2 linked regions of the Homo sapiens genome follow. The protein of the gene in region 1 interacts with the protein of each later gene in a pairwise test. Each region holds a gene or a part of one and is shown on either strand. Other genes may lie near its edges.

Region 1 (3,035 bases):
TCAACTACATGAAATTTTGTATCTTTAAAAAATGAATCATTTCATCTTGCAAATGATTTGTATTGTATGCTATTTATTACTCTCAGTAATCAGGAATGACGCTGCATAACAAGGACTAGTCCAGATACATATACGAGATAACCAAAATAAAAGTAACTTAAATAGGATAAAAGGTTTTTTTTCTCATTTAAAGTAGGTAGTCCCATTTATTGAAGACCTAGGCTCCATGTCATTCCCATAGTATATGTTTCCCCTTGCATACCTTAATATTGAAATATTTAATCTAAGTGACTTAGAATTCTTTCTAATGTGATTTGATTCAAATAAGTCTTTTTTCATTAAATCTTTGAATCTAAGTAGAACATAATCATGGAGTATGAGGAGAGAGGAATGGAAAGTTGTTGCTTACTGGGTACAGAGTTTCTGTTTGGGATGATGATAAATTTCAGAGATAGCAATATGGTTACATAACACTGTGAATGTAATTAATGTCCCTGAATTGTACCCTAAAAGTTAGTTAAAATGACAAATTATACGTGTATATATTTTACTGCAATTAAAAAAATAGAACATTATTCCTTTTATTATATTGTTCTGCAAAGCTATTAACTCTGTTCATAATTAATCATTTGGTAGATATCCTCAGATGCTTTCCATTTAAAATTTGAGAGATTTTACCTTCAATTAAGACATTTATTGGCATTACGTTTCTCTTGTTAGTTCCATGTTAGATCTGTTTTTCAAAAGATTTTTACTTCTCCACAGAGGGTGTGGCCTGCTTCTCAGCGAGACGTATTATATCTTTCTGTCATTCGAAAGATACCAGCCTTGACTGAAAATGACCCTGAAACTTGGATAGTTTGTAATTTTTCTGTGGATCATGACAGTGCTCCTGTAAGTACATGTATATAAATGTGTATAATTAAACAATATAAAGCTAAATACACAATGCGGGACAAAAATGATAAACACAGCCCATACACTATACTTGATTTGATAATGGTTCTTAGATTTTATGTTGGATTGACTGCTAGGAACAGTATAGCCCATGTGTTGTCTGAGGGCAACAGTCATGCCTATGAACATTCCACCAGGGCCGTTTACCTTTCCTTCTAATGTTTCGTGAAACAGCCAAAAGGGCAGTACATACACTGGGCAGTAGGCTACTTCCCACAGTTATCTCTTAAGCCGTTATCAACTGCCAGCCAAACCTCTGTGGTTTACCACAATTTAGCTCCATTTACTACTTAAGAGGAAGGGATCCTGGGCAACATGGTTAGACCCCATCTCTATTAAAAAAAATTTTTTTTTTTTTTTTAATTAGCCAGGCCTGGTGATGTGCACCTGTGGTCCCAGCTACTCTGGAGGTTGAGGCGGGAGGATTGCTTTGAGCCCAGGAGTTTGAAGCTGCAGTGAACTATGATGGCACCACTGCACTCCAGAGTGGGCAACAGAGCAAGACCTTGTCCCCAGAAAAAGTGGGTGGGGAGGAATCCTGGTGTCATATCAGCTTGGTGCTTATAAGATTTCACTGGAGATACTTTTAAGAGTTACGATTTTGGTTAACCTAATATAATATTAGACCAGCAGAGTTTACAAAATACTGGGTATCTACTGATGCTTTGTTTTTTGTTTTGGCAGCTAAACAACCGATGTGTCCGTGCCAAAATAAATGTTGCTATGATTTGTCAAACCTTGGTAAGCCCACCAGAGGGAAACCAGGAAATTAGCAGGGACAACATTCTATGCAAGATTACATATGTAGCTAATGGTATGTATTTTATTGTTTTTGCTCTTTGATAATGTGGCTGTTCTTGATCATGACCTATATGACAACAATTTGGACAAATGCCTTTTTAGTTCTTATCCATTAGATTACTAATTTTTAATTTGGAGAAAGGTATATCAGAATTACTAGAGAATCTTTGAAAGTACAGATGTCTGAATTTCACCCTGGAACTACTACTATATGAGTATTTCTGAAGCTAGAGCTGGATAGGAAAATTTTAAAACTTTATCCCTAGGTCACTGTATATACCCTTCTTTTTTTTTTTTTTTTTTTTTTGAGATGGAGTCTCGTTCTGTTGCCCAGGCTGGAGTGCAGTGGTGCAGTCTCAGCTCACTGCAGCCTCCGCCTCCTGGGTTCAAGCGATTCTCTGCCTCTGTAGCTGGGATTACAGGTGCCCACAACCACGCCTGGCTAGTTTTTTGTATTTTTAGTAGAGACGGGGTTTCACCATCTTGGCCAGGCTGGTCTTGAACTCCTGACCTCGTGATCCACCCACCTCGGCCTCCCAAAGTGCTGGGATTACAGGCGTGAGCCACTGCGCTCGACCTAGCCTTCATATTAAGCACCATTTTCTTAGATATTTGCCTCATAGAACAGATTTATTATTAGGAATATAAGCAACAGTGGGGAAGGAAATTAAGAGTTCTTTTACTCATTGTCAGCCTTTTTAGCTTTCTGAATCAATGTTCCCCTAGTCCTTATTAGTTGCTAGTTACATATTTATTTCTCTTTGACATTCATTGTCAGGCTTTTTGTTTTCTGAGTCAGCGTTTCCCTAGTCCTTATTAGTTGCTAGTTACATATATTTGTTTCACTTTGGATAGGTCTTTTCATTGCTTGCTTTGGGTCCTTACTTCACCTGCTTTGCACCTGGAGTAATCATTGCAACCTCTCTCATCAAAAGTCATACCTTCTTTATACAGGGCCATAACTGCTAGTATGTTCAAAGAAACAGTTGTACCTGAGTAAGTTACTATTTCATTATAGTACAGATTTGTGAATAATCTGCCCTAAATAACCTTAAGTGGTGCTATACTAATTTTTGCAGGTAATTTCGGGAACTAAGAACATTGTAGAAAGGTTATAGATGCTTTCTTATTTGCTGTCTGATTATGTCTGATGGATAGTGTTAAGGAATGAAGGGTTGGGACTTAAAAGATCATAATTGGTCCAGCTGGGTACAGTGACTCAGCCTGTAATCCCAGCACCTTGGGAGGCTGAGGCGGGCGGATCATGAGGTCAAGAG
Region 2 (3,780 bases), on another chromosome or scaffold:
ATCGCGCAAGAGGGGCTGCTGTGCGGTGAGTGGGTGGCGGGCACGGGGGTATGGGGAAGGCAGAGATGGCTAGGGGGCACTGGGGATGGCTGGGGGCGCACCCTCAGTCAGCCACCGACCTGCATGTGTAAGACAGCAGTTCTGAGGAGTGTCACTGCGGCGGCCACGAGCCTCAGGTGTTGTCTGCCTGCCCAGTGTGGTCACCTGCTCAGGTGAGGGCAGGAGGCCATGGGGCGGGGCTTCGAGCTGCCTTCCAGAATGTGTTTCTAGAACAAGGCTGAAGCTCTCATGGCACTTATTGTTTCTAATCAAGTCCACCAGGGCCCCTGGGGCGGTGGCTCTGCATTGACGGGGCCCATGGCCGGGACTGGGTGCTGCGAGCACCCTGGAGCAGCTGGGGAGGGGACTGGAGCCTGAGGCTGTCCAGCTCGACCCCGCTCACCTTCCTCCTACCCCGTGCCCCTCTGCCCACCTGCTTGGGGGTGGACAGACCAGGTGGCCGCTGGCAATGCCACTGACTAGCCACACAGGCAGCAGAGGCCCTGTAGGGACCACAGTTGATCTAGACCTCTGGGGACTCGGAGAGCACACACCAGCTTCTAAAACGCAGGCAGGGACATGTGAGGTTTCTACATGTGCATTCCGTGTGTCATGTCACTTTGGGGGTGGTGACAGGGAAAGTGGAAGGAAACCAGCCCTCAGCATGGCCAAGTCCCCCGTTAGCTGAGCCCCAAACTAGAGATTGGAAGAAAGTCTTGATTGAAAAACCATTTCCCAGCCAGGCGCGTTGGCTCATGCCTATAATCCCAGCACTTTGGGAGGTCGAGGCGGGTGGATCACCTGAGGTCAGGAGTTCAAGACCAGCCTGGCCAACAGGGAGAAACCCCGTCTCTACTAAAAATACCAAAAAAAAAAAAAAAAGTAGCCGATGTAATGGTGCATGCCTGTAATCCCAGCTACTCGGGAGGCTGAGGCAAGAGAATTGCTTGAACCTGGGAGGTGGAGGTTGCAGTGAGCCGAGATCACGCCATTGCACTCCAGCCTGGGTGATAAGAGCAAAAACTCCATCTCAAAAAAAAAAAAAAGAAAAGAAAAGCATTTTCCAGATGAATCTGTCACGAAAGGTGACTTGGTGCCCATAATCGTTGGGCTCTCCCTGTCTCAGTCTCCCTGCTCCCCATGTTGGTGGAGAAACAAGCCCCTGCCTTTGGGGCTGGAAAGCAGGTCCATGGGCCCCGTTACAGAGGAGGGTGCCTCTCTTCCTGTGGGGGCTCCTACTGCAGACTTAGACCTTCCCGACTGCTGTGTGCACCCTCAAACTAAGCCCAGAGAAGACGCCTCTGACTCTGACTTCAGGGCTCCTAGGGACAGCTGGTGTCACTGTGAGCCTTGGTCTCTTGTTTATAAAGCAGAGCCCAGTGTGCAGTCAGGCAGCCTGCAGGCGTGGTGCTGGGGGCTCCGTCCTCGTAGCATCGCTGGCTCTAGGCTCAGGGCCAGGAGGTTTGCCAGGGGCCGCAGCCCCACTGCAGGCATTTCCCTGGCACCAGTGCCCACCCCAGCTCATTATGAAGCCCCGAGTGGACACAGAAACTCCATGGTGCACAAGGAAGAAGCCGATGCTCACGGAGAAGTGGGGTCCTCCCAGCCCCTCTCCCCGAGGCAACCCCTCTTGACGGATCCTTCGGAGTGTGTCTGACATGCTCCCATGCGTGCACGTGCACAATTCATGCATACGTGTGCACCCACGCACGCTCACCCTGGCGCGTCTGACTCGTGGCCCTCTCTGCAGGTGGCAGTGCTGGCAGCACGGTGGCGGTGGCCGTGAAGGCCGCGCAGGAGCTGCAGGAGGGCCAGCGCTGCGTGGTCATTCTGCCCGACTCAGTGCGGAACTACATGTAAGACACGGCTTCCCTCCCAGGTCCCTGCTCCTCTCCATCCTGCCACCCTTCCCTGGATGCCTCTCACGCCTCACCTGAGAACCGGCAGCCAGAACTGGGAGGGGAGGAGGCCAGCGGGGCCCTGTGAGCACCGCCTCCACTCTCCTGCCCACGTGCCCTCACGCTGTGGGGCTTCCCAGCCTCTTAATGCTGTGAAAATCAATGCACACTCGCAGTGACAGCCCTGACAGGAGGGGCATGAAAGACGGTGGCTCCCTCTCTGTCCCTCCTGTCCCTTCCTCTCTGGTGTCTGTCCCCCTCACTGCTCTGGGGTCCGTGAGCTCCAACGGGTAGCCCTGGCCACATGGACTGACGTCCTCTTGGGCCGGGCCCTGTGCCACCTCCTATCCACCCTGACTCCCTCTGCTGCTTCCCCCAAACTCCAGATTGGGACCGAGTGCTGCCCAGGTGGCCCCCTAGGACTTGCTGTGACTGTTTTGCCCAGAGGCCCCTCGGACAGTAACGCCACAGACCTCGCTGGTCACCGGGCAGCCAGGCTGAGACTGGCGCTGCTCTGCACCTGGTCTCCGGAGGCGGTACCAGGGCGGGTGTCTACAGACCCCCATGCCCTGTCCCCTGCACCTGCAGGGTTTCCTCCATGGCCTGCAAGCTGCAGCGGCTACACAGCTCCCGAGAGCTCAGCTGCCCTTGGAGGGCCAGGCCTGGCTGGTGGGTGCCCCCAGTTGGGTTCCCCAGTGTGGGGTGATTCACATCTGGTGCCCAGGGTCAAGATGCCCTGTGCAGGGCTCCTGCCCACCCCCGTCAGTGCAAGAACACCATCTCCCCACATACTTGGCCAGCCTGCCATGTGTACCTGTGCGTGTGAGTGTGTGAGGGGCAGAGAGCGAGCATGAGAGGACGTGTTTATCTGAGTGCCTGAGCGATGGCTGTGTGCATGCTCACACACGCTTGTTGGCCATGGGGGCGGGAAGTCCAGCCCCCAGGCTTCCCCCTGGGGCTTCCAGCCAGCACTTGGGGGTCTCTGCTGCACCAGTGAGGTCCAGGAGAGGGGCTGGGCAGGCAGTGCGTGCCACTCAGCAGGGGCGGGGGCCCGGTGGGGCCCTGCGGGGACTCGGTGACTCCCCCATCCCGCAGGACCAAGTTCCTGAGCGACAGGTGGATGCTGCAGAAGGGCTTTCTGAAGGAGGAGGACCTCACGGAGAAGAAGCCCTGGTAAGACCGCTCGGCCGGAGACCCGCTGCCTGTGCTGGCCCTGCCCAGTGTGACAGGCAGGAGAGCACTCCCCCGTGGCCTGTGCTGGCCCTGCCCAGTGTGACAGGCAGGAGAGCGGTCCCCGTGGCCTGTGCTGGCCCTGCCCAGTGTGACAGGCAGGAGAGCGGTCCCTGTGGCCTCCTGCTGAGGTGCTGCCGGCGGGGGTGCGAGAGCGTTTGTCCTTATCCTGATCCCCCCGACCTGCCCTCTTCCCTCAGGTGGTGGCACCTCCGTGTTCAGGAGCTGGGCCTGTCAGCCCCGCTGACCGTGCTCCCGACCATCACCTGTGGGCACACCATCGAGATCCTCCGGGAGAAGGGCTTCGACCAGGCGCCCGTGGTGGATGAGGCGGGGTCAGTCTCAGCCCCTGCTCAGAGCTCAGTCCTGGGTTCTGTCTGCCCAGCTCCACCCCGTCAGTGTCACTGGACAGGGCAGCCATGCAGACCCTGCAGCTGGGCTGATAGGCCCGCCTGGGCCGCCTCATACAGACGTTCAGGGCATTGGAGGCCCCTTGCCGGTCCCTGAGCAGCCTGGGGCAGGGCTGCCGTGCTCACTCCAGGCCCTCAGACCTCAGCCCACCCACCCTTTGTGTGCAGGCTGTCCTGGGCCCACCTGGAGGTCAGGGGAGAGA

The links.
Region 2: the proteins of CERT1 (region 1) and CBS interact in a two-hybrid assay, tested with the Homo sapiens proteins (one large-scale study listed by BioGRID).

The regions. Positions count from the first base shown.
Region 1 is NC_000005.10:75,379,808-75,382,842, reverse strand, and holds part of CERT1 (ceramide transfer protein), read left to right. Parts: intron 1-765; coding exon 766-894; intron 895-1,641; coding exon 1,642-1,771; intron 1,772-3,035. UniProt on the Homo sapiens protein: Shelters ceramides and diacylglycerol lipids inside its START domain and mediates the intracellular trafficking of ceramides and diacylglycerol lipids in a non-vesicular manner.
Region 2 is NC_000021.9:43,058,556-43,062,335, reverse strand, and holds part of CBS (cystathionine beta-synthase), read left to right. Parts: coding exon 1-25; intron 26-1,789; coding exon 1,790-1,895; intron 1,896-3,032; coding exon 3,033-3,110; intron 3,111-3,367; coding exon 3,368-3,502; intron 3,503-3,780. UniProt on the Homo sapiens protein: Hydro-lyase catalyzing the first step of the transsulfuration pathway, where the hydroxyl group of L-serine is displaced by L-homocysteine in a beta-replacement reaction to form L-cystathionine, the precursor of L-cysteine.